Linked DNA regions of Homo sapiens. The protein of the gene in region 2 purifies or fractionates together with the protein of the main gene of each other region. This does not show direct contact. Each region holds a gene or a part of one and is shown on either strand. Other genes may lie near its edges. The genes, in order: ACAD11, TRAFD1 and BBS4.

What was found.
Region 1: the proteins of TRAFD1 (region 2) and ACAD11 purify together in Homo sapiens (affinity purification with mass spectrometry; 2 studies listed by BioGRID and IntAct, with this or other methods). This does not show direct contact.
Region 3: the proteins of TRAFD1 (region 2) and BBS4 purify together in Homo sapiens (affinity purification with mass spectrometry; one large-scale study listed by BioGRID and IntAct). This does not show direct contact.

The regions. Positions count from the first base shown.
Region 1 is NC_000003.12:132,635,700-132,639,358, reverse strand, and holds part of ACAD11 (acyl-CoA dehydrogenase family member 11), read left to right. Parts: intron 1-3,659. UniProt on the Homo sapiens protein: Acyl-CoA dehydrogenase, that exhibits maximal activity towards saturated C22-CoA.
Region 2 is NC_000012.12:112,151,784-112,154,215, forward strand, and holds the end of TRAFD1 (TRAF-type zinc finger domain-containing protein 1), read left to right. Parts: intron 1-17; coding exon 18-357; intron 358-643; coding exon 644-716; intron 717-951; coding exon 952-1,008; 3' UTR 1,009-1,821; downstream 1,822-2,432. UniProt on the Homo sapiens protein: Negative feedback regulator that controls excessive innate immune responses. Regulates both Toll-like receptor 4 (TLR4) and DDX58/RIG1-like helicases (RLH) pathways.
Region 3 is NC_000015.10:72,731,106-72,734,764, forward strand, and holds part of BBS4 (BBSome complex member BBS4), read left to right. Parts: intron 1-199; coding exon 200-352; intron 353-449; coding exon 450-621; intron 622-3,659.

The DNA.
Region 1 (3,659 bases), on a different chromosome or scaffold from region 2:
ACTCAAAATTTTTAGAAAGGAGTCCTGCAGATTTTCCAGCATAAGTTAGCTGCCTACCTTTGAGACTGGTTCTAATCCCAAGTGGTATCTGGTTTACTGCTTAAAAGGATTTGGGAATTTTACATGCATGATGCTGTTTTCTTCAAATAAGTTTTCATCTACTAGTTACAATATTTAGCTTATCCATGTTCTTGCTGTTTTTTCTGGTTCATTTATACTTCTTTGGGGTTTTTAGCCCTATCTCATGAAGAATTTATTATTTGTTTATTATAAACTCTGAGAATAGAGAATTCCAAAAGCTTCTTGAGGCTTCAAAAGAATTACATGAGATTAATATAACCTTGCTCAATGTAAATGTGCATACTGTATTCTTTATAAAGAGTATAAACAAATGAAAGCTGTAATCCTCCACTGAGCACCTACAATGAGGCCTAGGATTACAGTATAGTAGGAATGAATCCTGCTTCTGAGAGGAGGATTTTCTGGGTTCATTAGTTTCTTAGAATGCTAAGATGTTTTAGGGCAGGAAGAGCTAGTGGCACTGATGAATTCTGAATTCTAACCTTGTTAATTATCTACCCTGAGATTAGAAAAATTAAATATGCTAATTTATAATCTAGATAATTATAAAAGCATATGCCTGAAAACATAGCAGGATCTGGCCTGTATTTGATCTGTGTCATTTAATTAATATTTTAGTCGAGTCTACATAATATTGAGTCTCTATAGTAGATAACAAATTAGAACCCACTAGACTTGGAGTTCCTTTAAAACAATGACTGTATCTTATTCATCTTTATATTGCAGGTGCTTATATGATTCTGATGAATCTATGTTGAAGGGATTAATTTTAGTTAATTATTCACTAGCAACTATTTCCATCTCATAAATTTATGCTTAACTTTCATTCCCTAGCAGTGTGAACTTAAAGCATGTTATTCAATCTCTCTCTGTGCCTCTATTTTTATTTTAACTTTTTGTTTTGAAATAATTAGAGTCCCCAAAAAAGTTGTAACAGTGTTATAGTACAGAGAAGTCCTGTGTATCCATCATCCAAATTCTGCAAAATGGATATTATACAACTATGGTACATTATCAAAGCCAGGAAATTGACATTGTGTACCTTTTAAAATTGAAAAAAAAAATTCTGAGTTGCTGGGCAGCTAAAATGAAACAGTCAATGTGGAGCAACTAGCTGGTACCTGGCACATCAATGATGCTCAGTTTATTTCAGGTACCCTCATTTTTCCATTTTTTCCCCTTCATTTTTCTCTCTGACTTTTCTTAGACTACTTGTCAAGCTTCTTCAGAAAAATATTAGGGTATAAGTAAATGCTTCATAATATGTACGAAAACCTAAACAGTGGTTGTAGGGGATAGAATTATAGGAGACATAATTGTACATTTCTGTAATGTTTAGGGTTTGATGTTTTTTGGTTTTTATTTTTAAAACAACAGCATGTTTAATTTTTGTCATCAGAAAACACAACAATTAAGAAAGAAGAATAAACAATTTTAAATGACAAACCTTCCAGGAATGTGTGGAGTAAGCCAGTAAAGGAAACTACAGGATATGGCAAAACGAAATTATTTTCTGTTACTTATTTACAAAGTATTTAAAGCATGTTTGGGCAAGTATTTCAGTAGCACAATAGGCTCACTGCAATGTTGAAAAGAAATCCAGTTTTCCTGGAAAATGTTGATTTTCCAAATATAAATTTTACCAGTAGAGAAATGTTTAAGATCTTGGAGTTTAATGTAAAATCTGCATATTGTCATTTCAACTTGAAAAATATATTTAATTAGAAACATCCATTGGAACTTGTCAACTTCAGTGATCTAGAAATTGAAACCCCTTATTTTTGACCTCACCCTCTTTACCTTCTGTTCTTTTATTTCTCTGCATCTTCCCTGAGACACTGCAAATTTGATTGCTGTTAATTTAGAATCCATAAGCCCTTCATGACTTCACTTGACTTCTTATCCTACATAAGCCACATGGTCATAATCAGTCATCTCAAAAACTACCTTTAGTATCAATTTCATTAATAATTTTTTGACTATAGATGTATGCAAGTAATGTAAGAATTATAAAGTGTCCTGACCTTAGGTTACTTATTATTCTAGAATCTTCCCACCCTGACTTTATATCATCATTATTATTATTATTTTACTTTTTATTTTTTCTAATAACCCTACAGGGGATGTCCATCACCCCTTGACTTTAACCAGTTTCTAGCCCTAAACTTGAATCCTCATATTTTTGCTGCAGAATAAAGTCGTGAAGTAAGGTTAATTGGATCTGGGACATTTTTATGCCACATGATTTTATCTAGGCTGTAACTTCATCTCTTAGTAAAACCTGTGACATTTAAAAAATGGCTTTTCTAAATCTTTTCCCTTCTTCTCAAACTCTCACATTTCTTGTCCCATCTCGGTTCCCACTCTCAGCATGTGGTCTTGTCTTCTACCTAACTCATCTTTGTCCTTTCAGTCATTTTCCAGCATAGCCTGCTTTCTAGGAATTACACCATGCCCCTCAAAGTTCTCTTTATATTGTTGAAGACATTTTCGTCCGCTACACAATATCACCTGTATGCAGATTGATGGGTGATATTTTTCTTTAGCCTCATTGCCAAGAAAATTTGTCCCTCTTGAGCAGCTGGTTTGTTTTTGACCTGCATACACTATAAAGATTGTGACTGACCATGCTTCACACTTTATTTTACCCGCTATAAAATTCAAAGCAAATTTTACTACCCACACTAACAACTATGCATGTCCTATCACATTCAATTATGTGTAATAACCTTACTCCTAGCTTCATCTTTTCATTACAAATTCTATTATTTTCTTCCCTGCCTTCTTCATCTACTGTTTGTTCTGTTGGATTGTATGTATTTTTTGTTTGTTTCGAATGCCAATACACATACATATTAATAAAATTCAATGGTGTAAAAAGTATACATAAAATGAATCTCTTTATAAAGAAGATAATTTAAAAAACTAAAAGCTTTCTGTTGAGCTGAGGTTTCAGAAAAACTATCAAAAATAATTTTACTAATAAGTTCCCTAGCAGCAGTAAGACGAACTAGTAAATGTCCAGATCAACCACTAAAAGTTATGTTGAGCTTTTAATAACTCTCAACACAAACAGGCATCAACAGGACTCTAATTAGCTATTGCTAATTAATTTGCACTAATTTATGCAATTTGATGAGCCATCAGCTTTTCTCACTGGCTGTTGTTTTATAGCTTTGTGTTTTTACCCCAAAAATGGTTCAGATATTCTGAAAAGTAACTCCAGAGAAGTTTCCCAATTGTATTAAAAAAGAAAAGTAATCATTTATAGCATAAGTAAGTGCCTCATCTTTACTTTGGATGTTAAAAGCATAGATAACAAATAGAATGATGTAAGAGAAAAATGCATCCATCCTCTTCAGTAGTTTCACAAATCTAGCTAGTATAGTAATTTATAATACTTATAATATTATAAATTTATAGTATAATATAACCACAATAAAAGCTCTTATAAAGTCATAGAGAAAGGAGTGATCAATTTTTTTCCACAGTAACAATGGCAAAGTTTTGATTGCCTTGCTATATATGCCAAGCTCTGAACATATTCATCAAATAAATACATATTGGCCATCTGTTGT
Region 2 (2,432 bases):
CCATTTTCTCTTCTCAGGAGACCTGTCTTCTGGTTACCTGGATGATACTAAGCAGGAAACAGCTAATGGGCCCACCTCCTGTCTGCCTCCCAGCCGACCCATTAACAATATGACAGCTACCTATAACCAGCTATCGAGATCAACATCAGGCCCCAGACCTGGGTGCCAGCCCAGCTCTCCTTGTGTGCCGAAGCTCAGCAACTCAGACAGCCAGGACATCCAGGGGCGGAATCGAGACAGCCAGAATGGGGCCATAGCCCCTGGGCACGTTTCAGTGATTCGCCCTCCTCAAAATCTCTACCCAGAAAACATTGTGCCCTCTTTCTCCCCTGGGCCTTCAGGGAGATACGGAGCTAGGTAAGAATCAGTAGCCCAGGAATGGGGCTTGGGAGTAGCTGAAGCGAACATGGGCAAAGGCCTGGTTACCCTTGCCAGGCCTGGGGTAAGACTGAGGTACTTGCATGGTAAGGGGAGGAGTATGGATTTTCCCTGTATTGTCACCTGACTCCAAAAAAATTATTTTGTGGCCTATGGGTTTTTTGGGGTTTGTCTGCTAGCATAGGACTGCTTCCTGTTCCCTCTGAGTTTGTTGACCTTTGCTCAGGGACACTTCAGGAGCTAGTTTCTAATTGTTTTCTTTCAGTGGTAGGAGTGAAGGTGGCAGGAATTCCCGGGTCACCCCTGCAGCTGCCAACTACCGCAGCAGAACTGCAAAGGTAAGGTGGGCTCCAGCCCATGATGCTCAGTGGGGGACTCAGACATGGTGGGGCTTGTGTGGCTCCTGAAGTTGTAGAAGTTGTTGGGACCAGGCTGGTTGTGGTTCAAAGATTGTTCCTTTGGCTTTTGAGAAGGAGGTTTCTAAGGAAGCGGGACATTTTCGGGGATCCAGGGGAGGAGTAATGCTTTTTCACTTTTTATGTAAAGCTTCGTTTGTGTTGTGTTGTTCACCAGGCAAAGCCTTCCAAGCAACAGGGAGCTGGGGATGCAGAAGAGGAAGAGGAGGAGTAATGGTGTCTCCAGAGACTTTACATCGGTTCCTGTCTTCTGTGCACAGCAGCACTTGCCGCTGTGCAGGCCCACCTCTTTGGCTCTTTGGGTGGGAGAGTTTTTCCAGATTTTAGATTTTTCTAGGTTATGGCCATTTTGTGTCTTTTGAGGTTGTGCTGTGGGGGTTTGGGTTTGAGGGAAGGGAGCAGGGTGGCGGTTGAGGAACGCTTCAGCCTTAGCTGCTACCTTTCGGCAGCAGTGAAATACAAGCTGCAGCCTCGGCTGCCAGGGCTCCCTTTTGACTTATTGTCGCCACTGCCCCTTGGTGCTGTGTGGTCCCAGTGGAAGGAGGGGAAGATTTTGGAAACCTGGTAGCCACCAGTAAGGTGATTCTCTGCCCTGTTGGGGCCTAAATTTGGGGGCTTTTGGGCAACCTCTCCGTGTACTGCGTCTGTCCACACTCGATTGGGCCCCAGGTGTGTATGAGGCGCTCTGGTAAGGTGCTCAGGCCAGTTGCAATGTCTGTCAGTAACGAGGCTTTTGATGTGTTGAGCTGGAGGTGAGTGGACCGGGGGCTGTGTTTTAAGCTGCTTCCTTGGCATTTGGCATCACTGCCTTCTGTTCCCGGGGGAGCATGGATCTTTTGTCCTCACTGCTTTCTAATGGGGAGGGCTGAGGGCTCCCTGTCCCCACAGCAGGTATGTTGGGCTCTGCCCCAGCCCCACACTTGCTCTGAAAACCAAGTGTCAGAGCCCCTTCCCCTTGTTTTTATTTTACTGTTATAATAATTATTAACTTCCTTGTAATAGAAATAAAGTTTGTACTTGGAGTTCAGCTCAGTCTTGTGGTTCCTTCTCCTGTGTGCTTTAGAGACTGCAGGGAGGGCAGGGTAGGCTGGAGTCAGCCCTGGGGTTGGAGGAGGTGAGCAGGGCTGGGCTTTCTCCGGCACTCCAGTAACCCTCGCAGCTCCACCATGAGTCCCTTCTTGGAGTACACAGACATTGAACGTGTAGTGTTTTAAATTGGACTTCTGAGAAAACTGACAGGCTTGCTGCAGCTCCGGTGATGACTGGGGCTAGAAGGGGTGCCTCTGACTGAATAGAGAAAAGCAGATTCTTCAAAAGCCTTCATCCTGAGAGGAGTTGAGCCCTAGCAGGATTAGCTGTTACCCCTCAGTGCCTCCGTCTGCATAGGACCACTGAGCACCGTAGGTCATTTTGAGTTCCTTTGTTCTTCCAACAACCTGTTGGGGTGGGAAAGGTGGGAGGAACTGCCCTATTTCATAGATGGAACACTAGACACGGGAACCATGCGGCCAGTTCTTTGCAGAGGCAGGTCTCTGAAAAGAATTATCCTGAGAGAAAAAAGCTTCGTCTGCATGCACTCGCGCACACACACAAACGATACATAGTAGGGTTAGATCTTTTAGTGTATGTCAGTTATAT
Region 3 (3,659 bases), on a different chromosome or scaffold from region 2:
CAGAGAGCCACAGTGTAGAGTGCAAGGACATTCCTCAGGAACATTTGTCCCAATAGGTTGGATATATTTATGTCCCTGGAAGAAATTTTCCAGTCCCATCTATGCTGATGGGCCTGCTGAGTATAGACTCAGGAAAGCTGCCCCACTGCTACAGCCTTTTGGGAATGACTGAATGACTTTCTCTGTGCCATGTTTTCAGGCCATCTTGGCAGCAGGCAGCATGATGCAGACCCACGGGGACTTTGATGTTGCCCTCACCAAATACAGAGTTGTGGCTTGTGCTGTTCCAGAAAGTCCTCCACTCTGGAATAACATTGGAATGTGTTTCTTTGGCAAGAAGAAATATGTGGCGGTGAGTGTCCCCTCATGTTCTTTGTTTGTATTTCTACATGTGGTTATTGGGTCTGTTTAGCTTGCCCTTCTCATTGAGTGCCCCTTCTCTCTCATAGGCCATCAGCTGCCTGAAACGAGCCAACTACTTGGCACCCTTTGATTGGAAGATTCTGTATAATTTGGGCCTTGTCCATTTGACCATGCAGCAGTATGCATCAGCTTTTCATTTTCTCAGTGCGGCCATCAACTTCCAGCCAAAGATGGGGGAGCTCTACATGCTCTTGGCAGGTAAGAAACATTTATGTGGAAAACTCTCTCTGCCATCTGTAATGAGGGAAAAATGGATTAGAATCATAGAAGATCAGTGGCTGTCTCATAGGAGCCATTCCCTTAGAGATCCTGTAGGAATCTGGATTACTGTCCTGGAGCTTGAAGAAATAGAAAAAGATGACAAAGGAACTTGGTTGTTTCTAACTTGGGGGAGTTTGACTCAGAGACCAACAGGTTAAATAAAGATCATCCCTAGTTCACCTTTTACCAGTTTTTTCCTCTTGCCTTGACAATTCATTTATGTATATATTGAGTCCAACTAAGTTCCAGACAGCAAGTGTTAAGAGCTTGGGTTTTAGGTAGGGTCCTGCCTCTACTACTTATTATATGTACCTAGGGCTGATGTGAGGATTGCATGATTAAGCTCTCAATTAATAATACTGGTTTTGTTGAAATACTGATTTTTGAAAACTGTTGGTTTTACTGTGGTTATATAATTGGTCTATTATTATCAATATTGTTGTTACTATAATTGGCCCCTAGGTGATACTTCCAAGTCAAGCTACCTTATGTTGAAACCCTTATCTCTTCTGAGCATGTTATATAGAATGCCATTCTCTTCCTGAAACTCCATTTTATGCCATGCAAATACTAAAATTGATCATAAAAATAAGTTAAAATTAATCAAACACTTTAACAATTATGCACAACCATTTTAAAGTACTGACTAGTCTTTCTAGGAATTTTTTTCTCCATATACATTTACTTACTAAATGTAAGACCCAAAGCAGATTTCCATGTCCTCATTTGGCAGTCGTCTTCCAGTGGCTTTTTGTTCATTACTGTGGGTTCTTATTTAAAAGAGAAAGCTTGCAAAAGCAATTGTGGTTATTTGAGGGTTGCCTGAATACAAAGATAACTTTAAAAAAAAAACATAGGTTTTATTATTATTCAGATATGGTATGGGCAACAGATCAGAAGACATCTGCCACTGGAAAGATAGTCTGTTACAATTCCTGAGAAGGAGGGCATGCTACACCGTGCAGGGCCACATGGGGAAGCACCAGGTCAATCAGGAGGTAGAGGGAGCAAGGGGTAAATGTGGGCACAATTCTTTATTGTAGTTTTCATGGGTAGAAATGCCCTCCCCGGGGCAAGACCGGGAAAGCAGGTTAACCAGGTTGGGGATTGGCCAGTTTGAATAATTTCAGTGGGCTCTGGGCTATAGGGCTGTCTCTAGGTGTCTGGTACCTGACCCTCGGGTGACTAGGACTAGGGAATATTGGCCCAGTGTCAGGGCCCAGTAAAGGAGGCAGTTAAGAATATGAACACTGGGTTGGTCGGTCTGCATACAGAAGGTACTCTTGTAGGGGTTATATCTAGGAATTAGCTGACTGTGGGAGGGACAGTCTCCCCAGGGTCAGTAAGGCCCCAGATGTCAAAACATCAGAATAAAAAGGCTAAAGTGGGGTGTGATGGTACATACCTGTAGTGCTGGCTACTTGGGAGGCTAAGGCAGGAAGTTTGCTTAAGCCCAGGAGTTGGGAGTACAGCCTGGGCAACACAGTGAGACTCCATTCCTCTCTCTTTTTTTAAAAATTTTATTTTAGGTTCAGGGGTACATGTGCATCCTGTTACACAGGCACGTGTGTCATGGGGATTAGTTGTACAGATTATTTCATCACCCAGGTACTAAGCCTAGTACCCAATAGTTATTTTTTTCTGGCCCTCCCCCTCCTCCAGTAAGCTCCAGTGTCTGTTTCCCTCTGTGTCTCCATGTGTTCTCATCATTTAGCTCTTATAGTGAGAACATGCAGGATTTGGTTTTCTATCCTTTATTAATTTGCTAAGGATGGTGGCCTCCAGCTCCATCTATGTTGCTGCAAAGGACACGATCTTGTTCTTTTGTATGGCTGTGTCGTATTCCATGGTGTACATTTACATTTTGTTTATCCAGTCTACCATTGATGGGCATTTAGGTTGATTTCACATCTTTGCTATTGTGAATAGTGCTGCATTGAACACACACATGCATGTGTCTTTATGGCAGAACGATTTACATTCCTTTGGGCATATACCCAGTAATGGGATTGCTGGGTCGAAGGGTAGTTGTATTTTTAGCTCTTTGGGGAATTGCCAGATTGCTTTCCACAATGGTTGAACTAATTTACACTCCCATCAACAGTGTATAAGCATTCCCTTTTCTCTGCAGCCTCACCAGGATGTTATATTTTGAGTTTTTAATAATAGCCATTTTGACTGGTGTGAGATGGTTATCTCACTGTGGTTTCAATTTGCATTTCTCTAATCAGTGATAGAGTTTTTCATATGCTTGTTGGCTGCATACATGACTTCTTTTGAAGTGTCTGTTTATGTCCTTTGCCCATTTTAATGGGATTGTATTCTTCTTGTAAATTTGCTTAAGTTCCTTATAGATCCTGGATATTAGACCTGCATGGTTTGCAAATATTTTCTCCCATTTTGTACATTGTCTGTTTACTGTGTTGATAGTTTCTTTAGATAGCTGGGTTCTAATGGAACACAGAAATGTAAACAGCCATAATGTAAGAGATAACAGCGATGCTAACTTTACAAAGTAGAGATGGCATTCAAACTGGATCCTGAACAACAAGCTAAAATGGAATAGCACAGAATGGCTGAGGAGCCACTGTGAAGAAAGGCATGCAGCCATGAAACTGCAGTGTCCCTTGCTGTTAGTGGGGGTTAGTGTTAGAGAATATGATGGGAGATGAATCAGGAAAGATATTCTGGGGTCAGATTATGGAGGTCATGCGTACAGTGCAAGGACTTTATCTTAGAGGCCATGTTTGTCCAGCTGTCTTCCTAGATCTCCTCTTAGGTGCCTGGTAGGAGTGAGTGCATAGCTGGTGGGGAGGTGGAATGGGCAGGGCTTCCAGAGCAGCTGTTTTTGTTTTATATATTAGGTGTCAAGGAAATACTGATTTTAAAAAGTGGGGGGAGTGTTTTACTGCTAAATGAAAGTGTAAAGATCATGGTTATAGATGTGGGGGGCCAGTGAGGATTCCTAAGTAGGA